2 separate regions of the Homo sapiens genome follow, and region 2 is linked to region 1. Evidence: fine-mapped expression QTL. A gene starts in region 1. The other region holds a variant in brackets. All regions are shown on one strand. Distances are from middle to middle.

Region 1 (2,930 bases):
AGAAGTTGAAAAATGTGCAAGCTGACAATCCTAAGAGGGTAGATAATAATCTAAGATCTATAACTAGCTCATTCATCTGACTCAACCATTATAAAATGATTTTTTTTCCTGAAGCATAGCACTTCTTTACATCTTTTAAAAAATTTTGTATTTTTTTAAAGTCCAGATTCATTAAAACCCCCAAATGATCAGTCTTTTTGGAAAGGACATGGTCTACGTGGGTGAGCATATGTATGTGTACACTGATAATTGTGCATAGTCTTAAGCTTGGTATATATTTAAATAACACAATTTAATTGGAAAATTTCCTGTGCTACTTTTGAAATTGTATTACTTACATTAGAGATCACAAGGGAATAATAGGCTTAGTACCAGTTTATCACATTAAAATGTACTTTTAATGTCTGCTAATTTCAAAAGGCTCATATGAGAGTCCGCATGCCTTAGTGGTCTGCATTTTGTATTGGTAGGAATCTCGACTGGGAACAGCTTATATATCTCTGAGCAAGGCATGGAATTATTGGCTCCTTGTGTTTCCTCATTTATAAAATTGCAGCTAACACTTATCTTCTGCACAAAGAATGTCGTTTAGACCAACGAATAAGGAAGTCAAGCAAAGCAATGTTAATTAAGACATGATTATTCACCTTGAGAGCCTTAACAAAACGGAGGAAAAAAAACTTCCTAGGAACAATCGTAACAGACTCCGTGTGCAAAGATTTAAACTTTTTTTTTTATAATATCTGGCACAGCAGATGTGTTCTTAAAATCTCAGGATATTAAGTTTATGAGTAAAGTTACTTAAAACCCATTTATTATGGAGAGCTGGTGATGGGAGGGGCCTAAAGATCAACCTTTTGTCACACAGGAAGCCACTGGTGTCCAAGGAGATTAAATAACTTTCCTAAAGTCAAGCTGATGAGCAACTAAAGCCATAACCAGAGAAGATTTTCCAGCCAGTGTCCTTTCACCTGTATTTATTTGTTTAGGAAAATGGCAAAATAATGGAAACACCAATCTTCTAATATTAATCAGTCCATCACCAGTAAACAGTTATTATTTCATGACACCTTTTGAGCAATCGCAACACTGTAATCATTACAAAATTAGTAGCAATTTCAAAAAGAGACTGGCTCATTTAAAAATCTGAGATTACTTATTTTACCTAGAATTAAAAAAAAAAAAAACATGAAAAACCAAAAAACAAAACCTGCGGTAGAAGCGCGTGGTTATGAGGGCGTTTGGGCACGGAGCCGTCCAATGGAAGAATTCATACATTTAGACCCGCTGGCACCGTGCACGGCGCGCCGGGGCCGGCTGGGGGGCGCCGGGCTGCAGAGGGTGTCGGGGACCCCAGCGCAGCTCCCAGCCCTGCCGCCCTCCCAGGCCGCTCACCAGCCGGGGCCAGACGTGCGGCGCCTCTTCGGAGACCGGATTTGGCTTGGCCGCAGACTCCGCGGACTGGGAATGAGCGCTCGGAGGTCTCTGGTACCGGCACCGGTACCGGGAAGGGAAAGGGGCGGTGTACCTCCGATTCGGGCGTGGTTCCCGCCGGGGTCGGCCCCCAGGGAGTCGTCCCCTGCGACATCGCCGCAATCTCGGCCGAGAGAAGCGGCCCCTCGTCACCTAGGCAACTGGGGTGGGGCCGGCGTCCCTGGGCCTGGGAACAGATCCCAGCGGAAGGCGGCGCTGGGCCCGAGCCTCTGCCCGCCGGGTAGAGGGCTGGGGACCGCGCAGAGGAGCAGGAGGCCGGGAGGGAGGCCGACAGCAGCCCGCTACGGAGGCCCTGAATCCTCTGGGAGAGACCGAGTCTTTCCTGTTAGTAGGAGTGAAAGTGGGGAAAAGGCAATTCAAGTAGTAGTAATTTAAATGAAATATGTCAAAGTACCTAATGCTAGCACATTGCAAGTTTCAACAAATATTAAAGTAAGATATATTATTAGAACTTCAACCACTGATTGATGTTTGATACTAAGCAATCATTGTAAATTTTAAAGTATCATGATGGTATTGTGGTCATGTTTAGAAGGAAAAATATGTCTTTATCTTTTAGAGATACATGCCGAACAATTTAGTGATGATGAAATGATATAAAATATGTGATTTATTCCAAAATAATGAGGGAGGGGCACAGGAAATGAGTGGTGGTATAGCACATGCATCTAGATTAGGCATGTGAATGGAAGGGGTTCGATCTTTAATAGTGCACTTAATAGTACACTAGAAAGAAAGTGTACTATTCTCCTTTTGTATATGTTTGAAGTGTTCCACAACAAAAACATTTACAAACAATAAGAAATGTCACATAGCAGCATGAGTATTCTTGACTTCTTTGGATGATCAACGCCTCCTTTGAAAACGAAATGTACTTGGCTTGTATTTACCTGCATGTAGGTTGCTATGCAGGACACTTCCTGTGAAAATCAGACATCATTTAAGTGCTTCGGTTTCCTCATCTGTTAAATGAAATAACAGTATTGGCCTCAAAACATGACTGTGAAGATTGAACAGATTAATATATATATGAAAATGTTTATATCAGCCTTGACACCTAGTAGTGGTCTGTGTTTGATATTATTAGTGTTAGTATTAATATTGTGCTTCTCCTGATGTTAGTCCATATTGTAGACAGCTGCCAGGATAATATAATATTTCATCATGAACCTCTCCTTTATATTAGCCCATTGTCTTTTAGACCAAATATAACACATTAGCTTTATATAACCTCATGATAATTGTGCCTTTCCTTCAAATTGTCTCATAGTTCAAAGTATACAGTTTGTACTGTCAACCTGTGTTTATGAGTTGTCTCTAGTCTTGTAAATGTATGGCCCATCTTTTCAAGTGGGTTTTACTGTTTCCCTTGTTATTTTCACTTCTGAAGGAGCTAGTTTAGTTCTCAGTACAAAGAATGCATGCAACAATACATT
Region 2 (2,885 bases), 75 kb before region 1:
CGTGCCTCAGCCTCCCAAAGTGCTGGGATTACAGGCATGAGCCACTGCACCCAGCCAATATTTTTTACATAAGTCCATTCCTTTCCATTACCGTTGCTATATGCTAGCATTAAAAAAAAAAACTTAGCAATTTCCTAATTTTCCAATTAATCTCTCTGTCCCTAATCACTTTTCATTTCAAAATGTTGTTATAACATTGCCAAGTTACTTTGCTCAAAATACTGCTGTTATCATACCAGTCTCATGCTTAAAACTTGCAATCTAAATTGCTGTTTATAACATTTACATGAGAACTTTTACCAAAGATAGAATTTAAAAAATGAACTCAAATTTCTGAAGAATTAAAGCTACTTCCATATCTAGTAAATACTTTCAATTTGGATGAATTTGGTGGAAAGCTAGTCTAAATTTGAGAGCAGTCTGAATTATAGAATATTTCTAAATAAAACTTCACTTTCAAGTGGTAGCAATTCTCAACCTCTCGAGCAAGATTCCTAGAGAATTTATCCCTCATGGCCGAGGCATCCACTTTTGTAATGAGTTAATTTCTCTCCAATGCATCTAGAATCTTACTAGCTATGCAACTATCCTTGAGAAAATTCAGAAAATAGTCATTTAATCGTTTTCCGTAGAATGTAGTTCTCTTGCAGATCCCTATTAAAAAAGACTGGTATAGTAACTGACAGTGCTAATAAAAGGTTACAAGTTGAGATTCTGGATATACCTAAATGACTTAAGAAAAAAAAAACTCACTTGTAATTAGCAATGTCCATTTGCATATAAACAACAAATGCTGCCAAATTCAAACTGTTCTGCTTAAGAGAGCAAGAGCTGGTTTATAAACAGCCTCCATGTAATAGTCTCTAAATTATGAGTGTCTTTGTTTTTTTATAGACCAAAATTTACTATTAGTGCAGGCCAAGTTGATATATTTGAAATTCAAAGTTATTTGGGCTTGATTTAATATAGTTTTTACTGTGCATAATTTGCAAGAAGGTTCAAGCCACTACAACATTTATTGTACAATTGTTAAGACATAATGTAGACTACAATAATATTTAGTTACAATTATAAGACAACATATTTTTTTGAGAAGACAAAATATGTTATAATAGAGGTGATTCTGGACTTATCATTAAGATGTTTTGAATTTAAATATGTAAAAATTAAAGGTGGCTAATTTTTGTTTACTAGCAATATAATATTTGTTTACTAGCAAAAATATATTTGTTTACAAGCAATATAAAGTAGTGATATTGGTATATTTAGATGGTATTATATTTAGCTGTTAAAGTGACAGAAAATTCAAATTCCAGCAGCTTTGACCTGACAGTATTTTATCTTGCCTTCACATAAAAATCCAGAAATAGACAGTACCAAGCTGTATGGTGGCTCTGCTTTTCACAAAATCTTATGGGATCTAGGCTCCTGCTACCTTTCTGCTCCTGTAACTGGCCTCCATTCCTGTCTCTTTTGGGAGAGTAGATGGTAGATGAACGTATGCTGGCAAATTATACACAGTTGCAGCAAAATTTAATTTGCTGGTTTTCAGCCACTGGTTGTGCATCAGAATCACCATGGGGCATTTAAAAACTAGAGATGCCAAGCCCTACCCCAGACCTATTGAATTAGAATAGTGGTGGGGGAGGTGTCTTTGTTTTTTTTTTTTTTAAATAAGATATTTTATTTATTGTTTTTTTGTATAC[G/C]CTTTAATTGGTAAGTGAAGATATTTCCCACATTTTCCCCAGATATCATTTAAAAAAATTTTTATTTTAGTTTGGGGGTACATGTGGAGGTTTGTTACATAGGTAAACATGTGTCACAGGGGTTTGTTGTACATATTATTACATCACCCAGGTACTTAACTCAGTACCCAATAGTTATCTTTTCTGCTCCTCTCCCTCCTCCCACCCTCCTGCTTCAAGTAGACCCCAGTGTCTGTTGTTTCCTCCTTCGTGTTCATAAATTCTTATCATTTAGCTCTCGCTTATAAGTGAGAACATGTGGTATTTGGTTTCCTGTTCCTGTGTTAGTTTGCTAAAGATGATAGCCTTTGGCTCCGACCACGTTCCTGCAAAAGGCATGATCTTGTGCTTTTTTATGGCTGCATAATATTCCATGGTGTATATGTACCACATTTCCTTTATCCAGTCTGTCATTGATGAGCATTTAGGTTGATTCCATGTCTTTGCTATTGTGAATAGTGCTGCAACAAAAATTCGCGTGAATGTGTCTTTATGGTAGAATGCTTTATATTCCTCTGGGTATATACCCAGTAATGGGATTGCTGGGTCAAATGGTTACCAGTTCTGCTTTTAGCTTTTTGAGAAATCACCACACTGCTTTCCACAATGATTGAACTAATTTACACTCCCACCAACAGTGTAGAGGGGTTCCCTTTTCTCTGCAACCTCACCAGCATCTGTTATTTTTTGACCTTGTAATAATAGCCATTCTGACTGGTGTGAGACGCTATCTCATTGTGGTTTTGATTTGCATTTCTCTAATAATCAGTGATATTGAGCTTTTTTCATATGCTTGTTGGTCGCATGTATGTCTTCTTTGGAGCAATCAGGCAAGAGAAAGAAATTAAGGGCATCCAAATAGGAAGAGAGGAAGCCAAACTAGCTCTGTTTGCATATGACAAGATAATTCTCTATCTATAAAACCCCATAGTCTTGGTCCAAAAGCTCCTTCAGCTGATAATCAACTTCAGCAAAGTTGCAGAATACAAAATCAGTGTACAAAAATCACTAGTATTCCTACACATCAGCAGCAACCAAACTGAGAGCCAAATCAGAAAGGCGATCCCATTCACAACAGCCACAAAAAAACAATAAAATACCTAGGCAAACAGCTAATGAGGGAGGTGAAAGATCTCTGCA

Evidence for each region. PIP is the estimated chance that this variant, and not a neighbour inherited with it, causes the effect. A credible set is the group of variants that fine-mapping cannot tell apart.
Region 2: its variant is the best candidate, but not a certain one, in a credible set for the expression of CABCOCO1 in sun-exposed skin (GTEx, PIP 0.57).

The regions. Positions count from the first base shown.
Region 1 is chr10:61,661,631-61,664,560 of GRCh38, reverse strand. It overlaps CABCOCO1 (ciliary associated calcium binding coiled-coil 1), which reads right to left and starts at 1,632. Exons shown (of 8, transcript NM_001366906.2): 1 at 1,529-1,632. The coding sequence starts at 1,588.
Region 2 is chr10:61,736,841-61,739,725 of GRCh38, reverse strand. All of the region lies in intron 5 of CABCOCO1 (ciliary associated calcium binding coiled-coil 1), which reads right to left. Among named protein-coding and RNA genes, the nearest start is that of CABCOCO1, 75 kb to the right of the region's middle. The variant G/C (reference allele first, on the strand shown) is at 1,707.